Linked DNA regions of Homo sapiens. The protein of the gene in region 1 interacts with the protein of each later gene in a pairwise test. Each region holds a gene or a part of one and is shown on either strand. Other genes may lie near its edges.

Region 1 (3,292 bases):
TCCACCTCCCGGGTTCACGCCATTCTCCCACCTCAGCCTCCCAAGTAGCTGGGACTACAGGCACCCGCCACCATGCCCGGATTTTTTTTTTGTATTTTTAGTAGAGACGGGGTTTCACCATATTAACCAGGATGGTCTCGATCTCCTGACCTCGTGATCTGCCCATCTCGGCCTCCCAAAGTGCTGGGATTGCAGGTGTGAGCCACCGCACCCGGCCTGACTACTTTTTAAAATATTTTTTTGTAAGGCTGGGTGCAGTGGTTCATGCCTATAATCGCAGTCCTTTGGGAGGCCGAGGCGGGTGGATCACCTGAGGTCAGCAGTTCGAGACAAGCCTGACCAACATGGTGAAACCTCATGTCTACTAAAAAAACACAAAAATCAGCTGGGTGTGGTAGCAGGCACCTGTAATCCCAGCTATCCGGGAGGCTGAGGCAGAGAAAATCGCTTGAACCCGGGAGGCGGAGATTGCAGTGAGCTGAGATCGTGCCACTGCACTCCAACCTGCACGACAGAGCGAGACTTCATCTCAAAGTAAATAAATTAAATAAATAAATAAATAAACAAAATATTTTTTGTAGAGATGAGATCTCACCATATTGCCCAGGCTGGTCTCAAACTCCTGGCCTTAAGTGATCCTCCCACCTCAGCCTCCCAAAGCACTGCAATTACAGGCATGAGCCACTGCACCTGGCACTCATAACATCACCCTTAGTGCTAAGCAGGGTGGGCTCACAGTTAACGGTCAGGCCGAGGGTGCACCCTTTAATCAATGCATCAGGGAGAAGGTCTGGGGTTATGGGGGAAACTGCTGAGTTTTCCTTGGCCTCCCGCAAGCCCTCACCAGGTGGCAGCCGGCTGCAAGCGGACGTTGGTCACAGGCTCCCCCACAGGCAGCAGGATCTGGACGTTCGTGAGTGGTGTGGGCACAGCCGTGGCACCGGGCCGGTAGCCGTACTCCACTGAGACCTGGGTGAGGGTGGCTCCACACTGCCAGTGGGCACTGAGCTGCAGAGGCACAGACTGGGGACCCGGGCGGGAGAACTAGGAAGAATGAGAATGAGAGAGAGGACACAGCTTGGGCCATCCTGTCTTGCCACACCATGCGCTATTCAACCACCTTGACCCTGCGATGCACGCACCGCCCCAAGGGGGTCCAGTCACAGGGAGATTTGATGGATGAGAGGCTGTATTACACCAGGTTTCCAGCAGGGGGCAGGAGAGCGCCTCATTCTAACAAAGTCTCCCAGGGAAGTTCAAGTGTAAGGTTCCGGGGCTGGGCTGCTTCTAGTTCACATAAACATACTATCTGCAACAGGGGATGCACGCTCTTCCACACTGCCTACTCCTCCACCGTTCATTCCCGACCCACACTGCCTACTCCCTCCAGCTCATCGGCTCTCACAGATTGGATCTCTTGAGGTCAGGAATTCGAGACCAGCCTGGCCAACACGCAGGCGCCTCCATGTCTGCTGCCGGCTCACCGTGTCCCCCACTCCACCACCTCCTCCCGGCCCCATGCGGGTGGCGCACCTGGTATCGCAGCAGCACCACGTTGTAGTAGGAGGCAGTGGGGTTCTGCTCTGCCTGGCGCTGCAGGGCTTCGGTCAGAGCTGCCATGTTGAGCCAGAAGTCTTTGGTCTCAGGGTCACTCTGGGAGGGGTCACTGCAGAGACCCGGACTGATCACCCCAATCCTCGGGACATGCCCTCCCAGGGCTCCCAGCATTCAATCTACCCCTTCCTAAAGATGCAATTTCCTGGCCCACCCTGGGCCCAGCAAAGCCCTACCTGGGTGGTTGTGGTGCGGGCAGTAAAGGAGGGATGGAAAACAAGGGTCAGAGAGGGCAAGTTACTTGCCCCACGCCACACAGCAAATCCCAGGAGGTGGCTGGGTGTGGTGGCTCATGCTTGTAATCCCAGCACTTTGGGAGGCTGAGACGGGTGGATCACCTGAGGTCAGGAGTTTAAGACCAGCTTGACCAACATGGTGCAACCCCATCTCTACTAAAAATACAAAAATCAGCCAGGCATGGTGGCACATGCCTGTAATCCCAGCTACTCAGGTGGCTGAGGCAAGAGAATCACTTGAATCCGGAAGGCGGAGCTTGCAGTGAGCCGAGATCACGCCACTGCACTCCAGCCTGGGCAACAAGAGCAAAACTCCATCTCAAAAAAATAATAATTAAAAAAAAAAAATCAAGCCGGGTGTGGTAGCTCACGCCTGTAATCCTAGCACTTTGGGAGGCCAAGGCGGGCGGATTGCCTGAGCTCAGGAGTTTGAGACCAGCCTGGGCAACATGATGAAACCCTGTCTCTACTAAAATACGAAAGAAATTAGCTGGGTGTAGTGGCACGTGCCTGTAATCCCAGCTACTTGGGAGGCTGAGGCAGGAGAATTGCTTGAACCCGGGAGGCGGAGTTGCAGTGAGCCGAGATGACGCCATTGCACTCCAGCCTGGGCGACAGAGCAAGACTCCGTCTCTACAAAAAAAAAAGAAAAGAAAAAATCCCAGGAAGCAGAGAGGGAACTCAGAGTCCGGAAGCCTGATCCCCAGCAGCCTCCGAGGCCCTCTCCCACTGCCCCTCCATAGTACCTGAACAGCAGATCGGCGTTGGGCTGGAAGTGCTCAATAGCGGTTGTGTGTACAAGCCGGAAGCTGAGGACAGGTGGTGGTGGGGTCCCGCTGAACACACGCACGATGCCAGCAGGGAAGGTCATGGTCAGCTCCCCAGTTACTCGAGCCAGGCAGCTAGGGAGGATGAGGGGACTGGGTGTTGGCTTAGGGCTCTGCCTGGTGCCTCATCCTTCCCCTTCTCTTGGTTTCACTGGTGCCTGTGGCTCCCCAGACTCCTCGGATCTAGGAGGATGGCCCTGATGATCCCCCGTATCCTTTCCCCCAACCTCCTCTTTCATTCCTGCCTGGACAGGAAGAATCCACCCTGGGCTGAAGGAGGCAGGAACATCTCCATCCCTAGTTCTCTTTTCTCCTAGGCCACCAGGAAGCTCAAATTAAAATGTTCAGTTTTTTAGCTATCCTTTGCTTGGGTTTTTGATCTGACACTCTCCTCTTCTTCATGGTTTGACTTTCAGATCTTTTCTGCTGAAGGCCACCCCAATATATATCCCTGCACTCCGCTTGTCCCTAACCCACGCCCTTACCCACTTACTGGGCCTAACTTCTAGTATTACTCCCTTCATCTTAATGCCCACGGCAGCCTTGGCGTCTACAGCAATGCATAGCCCTGCTTAAATGCTCTCCTATGGCTGGGCACAGTGGCTCATGTCTATC
Region 2 (3,500 bases), about 24 Mb from region 1:
ATTGTCCAGGCTGGAGTGCAATGGTGTGATCTCGGCTCACTGCAACCTCCGCCTCCCCGGTTCCAGCAATTCTCCTGCGTCGGCCTCCCAAGTAGCTGAGATTACAGGCACCCACCACTATGCCCAGCTAATTTTTGTATCTTTAGTAGAGATAGGGTTTCACCATGTTGACTAGGATGGTCTCAAACTCCTGACCTCAGGTGATCCACCCACCTCAGCCTCCCAAAGTGCTGGGATTACAGCAGACAGTACTAGAAGCCAGGCTGTTTATTTCTTAGGTTTTACCTCCTGTACCCCGTTCATAGCTTCTGGGGAAATAAGGAATCAGGATTCATTCCAGATATTATCCCTTTCTCAGGTGTCCAGACTGATGCAAAATTTGGGGGCCAGTGCCTAAGGGAAGAGCTGGGCTGGGGAAGCTTTGGAAAGAGAAGTTGAGAGCAGCTGCAGTAAGAGGGAGGATGGTTAGCTTTCAGGAAGAACTTCCTGTTAAAAGTTACTAATACCAGCCGGGCACAGTGGCTCACGCCTGTAATCCCAGCGCTTTGGGAGGCGGGCAGATCATGAGGTCAGGAAGTTCGAGACCAGCCTGACCAACATGGTGAAACCCAGTCTCTACTAAAAATAAAAAAATTAGCCAGGTGTGGTGGCGCGCGCCTGTAATCCCAGCTACTCAGTAGGCTGAGGCAGGAGAACTGCTTGAACCCGGGAGGCAGAGGTTGCGGTGAGCCGAGATTACGCCACTGCACTCCAGCCTGGGCGACAGAGCAAGACTCCATCTCATTAAAAAAAAAAAAATTACTAATATCAGGGCCAGGCGTGGTAGCTCACGCCTGTAATCCTAGCACCTTGGGATTACAGTTGCCCAGGAGTTCGAAACCCGCCTGAGCAACATGGCAAAATCCCCTCTCTACTAAAAATATAAAAATTAGTCAGGCATGGTGGCACATGCCTGTAGTTCCAGCTACTTGGGAGGCTGAGGCGGGAGGATCACTTGAGCCCAGAAGGTCAAGGCTGCAATGAGCCGTGATGGCACCACTGCACTCCAGCCTGGGCAATGAGAGTGAGACCCTGCCTGAATGCCTGAATGGACGAATGTTACTAATACAGCTAAAGTCTGTTGCACATTCAGCGTGAGCCCCGCAGTGTTCTAAGTGTTTTCTGTGAATTGTGTCCTTTGATCCTCACAAGACGCTAGCGGGGAGGGACTGCTATTTTCCCCATTTTACAAATGAGAGAAATGAAGTGAGTGCTCAAAGAATCAGTACCAACAAATGGCGGGGGTGACGTGGGGAGCCCTGGCCGTCAGGCTCAGTGCCACAAATGGGGCCCCAGGAGCAGGGAAGCTGTGAGTGAGGCCCTCCCTGCTGTCTCCTCAGGTGACACCTCTGTCCTGGCGGGTGTGTACGGGCCGGCCGAGGTGAAGGTCAGCAAAGAGATTTTCAACAAGGCCACACTCGAAGTGATCCTGAGGCCGAAGATTGGGCTGCCTGGTAATTGGGCCCTGCTGAACCTCTGAGTGGTGCCCAGTTTGTCAAAATCACCCCCCCAGCTCCTCCCTACCAGCTGCCCCGAGTCTCCACTCCCCGCTTGGGTCTCCACTCAGCTGTTTCTGTCTTTAACTCTCCGCCTCTAATTAATAACTCATCTTCTGTTGCTTCTCTCTCTGCCTCTAATTTCTCCCTCCCTCTTTTCTCCCTCTCTCTGCCTCCACTCTCATTCATTCCATTAACCTGTTTTTCTTTTATTTATTTTTATTTATTTATTTTTTTTTTGGAGACAGTGTCTCGCTCTGTCACCCCGGCTGGAGTGCAGTGGCACGATCTCAGCTCACTGCAACCTCTGCCTCCCAGATTCAAGCAATTCCCCTGGCTCAGCCTCCCGAGTCGCTGGGATTACAGGCACGTGCCACCATGCCCACTAATTTTTTGTATTTTTTTAGTAGAGATGGGGTTTCACCATGTTGGCCAGGATGGTCTTGATCTCCTGACCTCAAGTGATCCGCCCGCCTCAGCCCCCCAAAGTGTTGGGATTACAGGCGCGAGCCACTGTGCCTGGACCATTAACCTGTTTTTCCACCCTTTTACCCTCATATCCCTCAGTCCCCACTGACTGGACCTGCTAGGGTGGGAGTGGGCGTGGGTAGCAGCACAGACATGGAACTCCCAGGTCTTCTTCCCTTGGATGGTTCCCTTGGTGGATGCTGGAGGTAGCAGGGGTCAGTGGATGGCAGTCAGGCCTTGCCTTCTTCCCACTGGAATCTTCCATCATCCCTGCAGGTAACTGCACCATCCCAGGCTGAGACCGTGAGCCCTTTCTGGGAATTTGGGTGAGGCGTATGGAGGAAGGTGAGTCAAATGAAGGGGAAGACCCTGAACCTCTCTTCAATTTCCCCAGGTGTTGCAGAGAAGAGCCGGGAGCGGCTGATCAGGAACACGTGCGAGGCGGTGGTGCTGGGCACGTTGCACCCCCGCACCTCCATCACCGTGGTGCTGCAGGTTGTCAGCGATGCCGGCTCTGTATCCTTTCTGCCAGGCCTCCTCCTCCAGGAAGTCTCCTGATTGCTTCCCTCCTGGCGGATACATATACCCTCACTGCTAGCCAGAAAGCCTTCAAACACTTGACAGGTACCAGCTCACTGAAGAAGGAGAGCAAACAGCCTGGGTGCTTACTTATGTGCCAGGCACTGTTCTGTGTGCCTTATGCACATTAACTCATGTAATATAGCACATGCCCTTATGATCCCCGTGGAAGTGGCAGAGCCAAGACTTAGACCCAGACCGTCTAGTTCTAGAGCCCACGGACCCTGGCAGATGAGTGTTCTTATGTTCGCATGTTTCAGGTGACAAAACTGAGGCCCAGAGAGGGGAAGGGGCTTGCCCAAGGTCACACAGCTGGAAGGCAGCACAGGCAGGACTCAAGCCCAGGCCAGTCTGACTCCAGAGCCTGTGCCAATCACTTCTTTTGTTTTTTGGGTTTTTTTGTTTGTTTTTGAGACAGGCTCTCACTCTGTCACCCAGGCTGGATGCAGTGGTGCAATGTCAGCTTACTGCAACCTCTACCTCCCGGGCTCAAGCGATTCCCATGCTTTAGCCTCCTGAATTACAGGTGGAATTACAGGTGCCTGCCACCACGCCAGGCTAATTTTTGTATTTTTAGTAGAGACGGGGTTTTGCTGTGTTGGCCAGGCTGGTCTCGAACTCCTGACCTCGAGTGATCAGTCCACCTTGGCCTCCCAAAGTGCTGGGGTTACAGGCATGAGCTACTGTGCCCGGCTGGCAATCACTTCTACTCGGCACCTCAGTGGATTTCAGGCCCTCAGTGCTGGGGGCGCCCTGAGCAGACAGCAGCTGAGTCAGGAGCGTGGCCTTGTAAGATCTCCATGTCTGAGGTGCGAGAGGTTGAGGTTGAGGACTAGAATTAGACACTGTAGAAGGCTTTACTGGAACGTGGCCCTGAACTGGACAGACATTTTATGGATGGGCAGAGAGAGAAGGTAT

What was found. The genes of interacting proteins can lie anywhere in the genome.
Region 2: the proteins of FCHO1 (region 1) and EXOSC5 interact in binary tests that used the Homo sapiens proteins (3 or more experiments, as listed by UniProt).

Annotation. Positions count from the first base shown.
Region 1 is NC_000019.10:17,782,477-17,785,768, reverse strand, and holds part of FCHO1 (F-BAR domain only protein 1), read right to left. Parts: intron 2,861-3,292; exon of another isoform or gene 2,753-2,860; coding exon 2,597-2,752; intron 1,667-2,596; coding exon 1,534-1,666; intron 1,045-1,533; coding exon 845-1,044; intron 1-844. UniProt on the Homo sapiens protein: Functions in an early step of clathrin-mediated endocytosis. Has both a membrane binding/bending activity and the ability to recruit proteins essential to the formation of functional clathrin-coated pits.
Region 2 is NC_000019.10:41,390,860-41,394,359, reverse strand, and holds part of EXOSC5 (exosome complex component RRP46), read left to right. Parts: intron 1-1,379; coding exon 1,380-1,493; intron 1,494-2,397; coding exon 2,398-2,519; intron 2,520-3,500. UniProt on the Homo sapiens protein: Non-catalytic component of the RNA exosome complex which has 3'->5' exoribonuclease activity and participates in a multitude of cellular RNA processing and degradation events.